Homo sapiens: one gene and its partner. The protein of the gene in region 2 purifies or fractionates together with the protein of the main gene of each other region. This does not show direct contact. Each region holds a gene or a part of one and is shown on either strand. Other genes may lie near its edges.

The links.
Region 1: the proteins of SON (region 2) and TRIM26 fractionate together in Homo sapiens (co-fractionation; one large-scale study listed by BioGRID). This does not show direct contact.

The regions. Positions count from the first base shown.
Region 1 is NC_000006.12:30,206,907-30,210,406, reverse strand, and holds part of TRIM26 (tripartite motif-containing protein 26), read left to right. Parts: intron 1-3,500.
Region 2 is NC_000021.9:33,574,038-33,577,981, reverse strand, and holds the end of SON (protein SON), read right to left. Parts: intron 2,387-3,944; coding exon 2,315-2,386; intron 2,205-2,314; coding exon 2,089-2,204; intron 1,618-2,088; coding exon 1,558-1,617; 3' UTR 501-1,557; downstream 1-500. UniProt on the Homo sapiens protein: RNA-binding protein that acts as a mRNA splicing cofactor by promoting efficient splicing of transcripts that possess weak splice sites.

The DNA.
Region 1 (3,500 bases), on a different chromosome or scaffold from region 2:
TGCGCTGGACTGGAGAGAAGAGCATGTACAAGGGAATGGGTGGAGAGTGGGGAGTGAAGAAGGGGCTGTCTTCCTGGTTCAGTGTATCTAATGGCCAGAGAATTAGGTAGGACGAGGAGGGATTTGGGGCTGGATGGGTAAGTTGGGGCTAGCCGGATGCAGGGCAGGGGAGGATGTCTGTGCAGTTTTTTTTTTTTGTTTTGAGTCAGAGTCTCGCTCTGTCACCCAGGCTGGAGTGCAGTGGCGTGATCTCAGCTCACTGCAACCTCCGCCTCCTGGGTTCAAGCGATTCTCCTGCCTCAGCCTCCCGAGTAGCTAGGACTACAGGCGCGTGCCACCATGCCCGGCTAATTTTTGTATTTTTAGTAGAGGCTGGGTTTCACCATGTTGGCCAGGATGGTCTCGATCTCTTGACCTCATGATCTGCCCACCTCGGCCTCCCAAAGTGCTGGGATTACAGGCGTGAGGCACCGTGCCCGGCCACCTGTGCAGTTTTGACCTCAGCTAGTAGGAGTTTTTTTGGTGTGTTTGTTTTTATTTTTATTTTTATTTTTATTTATTTATTTTATTTTAGAGACAGTCTCTCCCTATGTTGGCCAGGCTAGTCTTGAACCCCTGGATTCAAGGGATCCTCCTGCCTCAGCCTCCCACAGTGCTAGGATTATAGGCATGAGGCACCAAACCCAGCCTCAGCTAGGAGATTTGAAGCAGGAGAATAACAAGGATGAGATCCTGTGTGCTAGAAGGATGATCCTGGCAGCACTTTTTAGGAAATATGCCACATCTCACCAAATCTAAGATGCTATTTGTCTTAATCCATTTTCTGTTGCTGTAACAGAATACCACAGACTGGGTAAATTGTAAACAACAGATGTTTATTCAGCTCACGGTTCTGGCCAATGGACTCTTGCAAGAAAGGCATTAATCCATTCATGAGAGTTACACCCTCATGACCCAGTCACGTCTTAAAGACCCCACCTCTTAATACCGTTACATTGGCAATTACGTTTCCAACACGTGAACTTTTGGGGGACATGTTCAAACCACAGCACCACCAAATCTTTTATGTGCCCTTATTTTATGCTCCACATCAAAAAAATATTTTGCCAGTTAAATTATGACATGCAATTGATCACATTTCAGAGATGCTAAAATGTGATGTCACAGGTGTCTCAAATTTGATGAAAAGCACTAACTCCCTTGCTGATGGCTTAGATTCCTCCCTTTCCCTGGATTAATGGTTAGGATGTCTCCATCTCACTAACTCATAGATGGTAAGTTACCAAGGGAAAGAAGAACAGAAGCTGGGTGGGCCCTTCCCCTTCTCTCCCCAAAGATAAACATTTACAACATTTACTGGTTGGGTCGAGGAGCACAATATCTGGTCTGCTGCTATAGGATTCCTTGGCCTGTTATTGGGCCTGTCTCATGCTGTTTCCTTTTGGGGAGTTAAATACACACACACACACACACACACACACACACACACACACACACACACATATTCTATATCCCATCCTCCAGAGTGGCAAAAATTAAAGCTGATATTATCAGGTGTTGGTGAGGCTGTGGGGCATCATGAGTGCTCATAGCCTGCTGAGCAGACTACATAGCACTATAGTCACTTTGGAAACAGTTTGGCCTGCTTAGTCAAATTGAGGGTACATCTTGCCTGTGTGTGCTAGAACATGTATGCAGAAATATTCACTGAAGCAGTGTTTGTAATTGTCCCAAACTGGAAACAACTCATATGGCTATCAGTAGACTGCATTAAAAATTGTATAGTTAGAGAGCAGCAATTAAGTAAAATCAGCTCATAATCACATGGATGAGCCTCACAAACATGTTGACAGCCCCCCACCCAAATACATGGAAAAAAAAAAAAAAAAAAGGAAAAAAATTCCATTCATTTGAGGCTCAAAACCTGAGAAAATAAACTCTGTTTATGGGGTGTATACCTAGGTCTAAAACTAAAGAAAAGGGAAGGAGTGATTCTCACTATTACAATTTACTCCACAACAACCATTTTCTCAGACACAGCTTTTTCTTCTCCTGGTTTCTGTAAGTTGCTGGAGCGAAACCTTGGATACGATGATTTGCTGGTGACGTGCAGCCCACTGTTCTTGCTGCTACAGGGAATATGAAGAAATTGCTTCTCTCTCTACCAATTTACTACCATCTTGCTGGAGAGAAAGGGCAGGTGGCTAAGATTGTTCGCATTCCTTCAGCAGATGTGTAGGAAGCATCTTCTTTGTGTCAGATACTCTGTGCTTGTGCTTTGTTTTCTCAGTCAGTTTTTATTGTCTACTCTGTGCCAAGTAATATGTAGATTCTGGTGATAAGACAGACACAATCTCTCTCCTTGTTTCATGGAAAAAGCTGGTGTTAAGCGAGTAATTACACTAATAAGTCAGGACTTAAAACTGCAGAGAAGTACAGGGTGCAGCATGGGGTGTTTTGGGGCTGTATAACTAGACTACATGTGGACCCAATCTGACAGGTCAGGAAAGAATTGCCAGAGGAGGTGGCTTTCAGCTGAGACTTCAAGCTAGAAAAGGCATTTGCTAAGTGGGAAAGGGATGGTGTTCTAGGCAGAAGGAATTACATTGTCGAAGGGCTTAGCCAGGAAAGAGCATAGCACTTTGAGGCATGGAGAGCGGTTTGGTTTGGCTGTGAGTTTGAGGTGGGGAGTGGCAGGAAATGAGCCTGGAGACACAGGCTGGGCCATGATTATCTGGGAATCCAGCTAGGATCTCCTGGGACAGCCTCCTCACAGAAGAAAGGAAGGACAGGAGTTTTGACTTTATTCCTGGAGCACCAGAAAGCCATTGAGGGGTTTAACCTGGTTGGTCACCCGGGCAGATTGGCAGTTTAACACGTGACCGAGTGTGTTTGAGGATCAAAAGGCCAGAGTGGCTGCAGCACTGGGGCAGCAAAGGGGAGAGGAGGTTTATGTAAATCAGGAAACCCTTGAGGGTTTGATGATCCCACAGTTGGATCTGATTTCAGCTTCTAAAGGATTCCTCAGGTCACTGGATGTAAGTTCTGGTAGGACAGGGAGTTTGCCACTTTTGTTCTCTGCTGTAACCTCGGTGCCTGACACATAGTCGGCACCTAATAAACATCTGCTAGCTGTTGAATAACTTTCAACATCCTGCTGCTTAAACCCTCAATGGCTTCCCAGGGCTGTTAGGATAAAGTCCAAAATTCTTAACCTGGGTCACAGTCTTGCATAATCTGTTCCCTCCTGTTTCTCCACCCTTCCTCTGCTCGCCTCACTGCACTCCACCTGTGGCCAATTGTCAGCTCCTCAAATTCACCGCTACCCTTTCTCCGGCGGATGATTTCCTCTGCCTGTGAGGCTAACCCTCCACAGCACTCCATATGGGCAGGGAAGAGTTCATTTTCCAGGCACCAAAGTGCAGTGTATGGTGGAATGGAAGGAGCCCAGAGCTGGGAGGTGCACCTCACCCCACCTCGTGCTAGTGCTGGCCTTGCTG
Region 2 (3,944 bases):
AAATATGTTACTTTACGATTTACCTGTTAGCAGGTTCTTGTTTCATAAAGGTAGAAAATAAATACAGACAACATCTACTGAGCTAGTTGATTGGTGATGCTTCTACCTTAATATCTTTCCTACTGATTTATAATTCCTTTATTTTCACATATACTAAAACTTTTTAAATGCATGTTAATTCAGATAAAAAGGCATTTTGTATTCCACATAGAATAGTGTTAAGAATTGTGAAGTACACTGAGCTGTCACGGCAAAGTAGTATTTAATGTGCTTATAGGGGTGTGTGTGTGTGTGTGTGTGTGTGTGTGTGTGTGTGTGTGTGTGTGTGTGTGTGTGTGTGTGTGTGTGTGTGTGTGTGTGTGTGTGTGTGTGTGTGTAGGGGGGGACTGTATAATTCACATTTTTAAAATAAAAGTGCTTAAAAATCAAAAGCATTGGGTAAAGAAATAATAGTATCTAAGTATTTGTTCACTTTATAACCCAGAAAATAAAACACCACGTTTATTCCAGAGAAGTTTGTATTTGGGCCTTAAGCTTTTGAAAATAAAGTTTAGAGACATAGCATATGAATACCACTGTAATACACATGAAATATTCTATCAGACCCTAAAAATTAACATAAACTTTTAACTTTCTCATAGTCAACAAAATAGTGGCTGGTTGCCAATTTTATTAGATAAGTTGGTTACAGCATTTTAATTATCATTTTACGTCTATCTAGGTGTAGCTGAAATTCAAAATGCACATCAAAGTAAAACTATATCACAACTCAATGCCATACTAAATGTACTGGCCTCTGCAATAGAATTCTAGTCAGACTTCATTTTTTACTCCCTTCTTATGACCCAAGTGGCTTTAACAGGAATGCAGGACTTAGTGCTGATCATCACACAACATACCACTTTCTTTTTAGAACCTCTACAAAATTTTGAGGGGAGATGGTGGCATTAGCCCTGTGGAACAGATCTTGATCACCTCAATAACACTGGCCCATTATCTGTCCAGCAGAACCCATTGTGAAATAGTACAAGGTGCACAGCCCTTCACTGATTACAGGCAAGTGTTACAGTAGCCTAGCCATAAGGAAGGGGAGTTACATCATAGTACAAAATACAGTATAAAAGCGTTATTTAACATTCCACACTGAAGATTACTCTGATGCCTTCAAACAGTCGTTTGGATGTTAGCCACTTAAACAAATACATCACTAAGGTAAACAATATAAACATACCAAAACCCTGTATGGTTAAATACAATTTCCATGGTACAAAAATCAAAGCCTGGAGATGTTTTTACAGATTGCTTTTTACACAATGTCTTAAATTGCCAAATATTTACAACATTAAAGAGGAAATACATTGTGATGCAGAGTAAAATTCTGAAATGATTATTATAAAACCTCAATCTATCTACGTGAGGCACTCCTGAAGCAAGTGGCATTAGCCATGAGGTCCTTTGGTACAAGGCCCATTGCTTGAAGAACCACAGTAGCTGCTGTGGCTTTAGCATGCTTCTTATTAGGGCTGGCAAAGCTGGGCTGGTAAGCGCTTCCATTTATCAATACCTATTCAAGAAAAACATACAATTGGGTCTGGTAAGGGCTCCATTTCTCAATACCTATTCAAGAAAAACATACAATAAGAACAGCATCAAACTTTAATATCTATTAGCTTTGTATTTTTTCACTAAATGCTAGAAAAATAATTTACAAAAATATAAAACCCATACTATGTAAGTCAAATTATAATCTCAACCCGAAGAACCAAATCATTTGGGAAAGGGACTGCAAATTAGAGCAGGTCTCCAAATTGAGAAAAAGACTGACAAAAGTATTAAATTAATTCCCCACATTCAACTAGAAAATAACAATTGTATACTATATTTTACCCTTTTCCAATTTTTTAAAAAATAGGACATTGACAAGTCGTATTAAAGCACCCTTCAGTGTTTAAAAACCCCACCACTTAACTACAAATACAAACCCCCCACCCATGAACAGAATCTTAATCCTGTGATCATGTTTACCCCTCACCCTCTAAGTCATCACATTAATAAATATATATAATTAATGCAGAAATTCATATTTACCCTAAAGAGAAAATGTTTGCGATGATCAGGGCCACTATCATGGACCAATAGAAATTCAGGTGGTTGCCACCTTCTTTTATTACAGATCTCCATCAAAGCAGACACAGGATGTTTGCCTGCAGGGGGGAGAAATACCCAGTTTTAAATTATTTCCACCAACTTCTGCAACAAATAATGAATTCAAGGTGGGATTAGGGTAAGAGGAAATTCAAAAACGTGCTCTCACCTGACAGATCTTTCATTGCAGCAGAGAAGTTCCCAGACCTCTTTTGTGCTCTTTCTCCTACTGCAACAAGACCTTTAAAAAAAAATTGTTCACTAAATAAATTTCAAAGCACCACTTTAAAACAAAGATCCCTCTGTAGGAGTCTGAACCTCAAAATGTATGCCTTCAAATAAAATCAGCAGATTCCTAGTACACTCGATTTCTCTATCAATCTTCTCTTTCTTCTCTTTTACTGTTTTTCAGCATATAAATTTATATTTAATATTCATAGATCTTGGTATGAGAAATTGTAATAAATACCAAATGTAAACAGAAAACAAAAAGTTAAGTATGGCCAGGCACAGTGGCTCATGCCTGTAATCCCAGCACTTTGGGAGGCCGAGGCGGGTGGATCTCCTGAGGTCAAGAGTCTGAGACCAGCCTGGCCAACATGGTGAAACCCCGTCTCTACTAAAGAAACAAAAATTAGCCGGGCGTGGTGGTGCGCGCCTGTAATCCCAGCTACTCGGGAGGCTGGGGCAGGAGAATCGCTTGAACCTGGAAGCGAAGGTTGCAGTGAGTAAAGATCGTGCCACTGACAGCCTGGGCAACGAGCAAAACTCCATCTCAAAAAAAGAAAAAAAATAGCTTATTGCCAAGTGATTTCTGCAGATTTACTGTCTCTTAAAAAAATAAGCTTCAGTTAAGACTCTTCCAAAAAAGGTTAGGATTTTAAGCCACCAAAAAGGTGAAAACGGTTGTCTCCAAATAAAATAGGTCCCTTTTTTCCTAGCAAACTCTCCTCTCCCTTCCTAACAAATGGGAGATGTTCTCAAAATATGAACATAACCTTTCTACATAACCTCTCTCTCCATAGACTTATTACAAAGGGGATTAGCTACATTGCTAAACCCAAACACTGCTTTCCCAATTCATATACAGGTTGAGTATTCCTTATCCAAAATGCTTGGGACCAGAAGTGTGTCGGTTGATTCCAGGTTTTCAAATATTTGCATTGTATTTAGCGGTCAAGCATCCCAAATCTGAAGAGGCTGAAATCCAAAATGCACCAATGAGTATTTCCTTTGAGCATCATATCAGTATTCAAAAAGTTTTCTGTTTTAAAGCATTTCAGGTTTCCAGATGTGGGATGCTCATCCTGTATGTTACAGGAAATTTTTCAACCTTTGCTAAATAATTCCATGCTAATATAAGCTTTTCTAAACCTATCCTGGGAAATCTGTGGTTCTCTGAGAGCTTACAGTCAGGCCATGTCCCACAATTCCAAGGACAATGCTTCCTGAAATTGTACAATACTTAACATCAAAGTATTTGGTGCAGAGCTAGTTCATTTCCAAATTCATTAAGACAGTTTAACTATTGAAGTTAGCTTCAACTTACTGTTTGATTACAAAGATGAAAATAAATCCCAGTTTTACATTTGTCAGCTTTTATAAATGAGGTTTAAACAAGCTATACAAAAATCATACTGAGCTGGCAAGCCTCTCATGATTCCACTTACATTATTCCAAGGGAAGAAGTTATTTAAAAGACGCCAATTAGCTATCATCTGTGGGAATGATTAAATACTTAGCAACTACATACAAGCTACATAGAAGACACAGTGCTGCCCTGCCCAGGTATCTGAAGG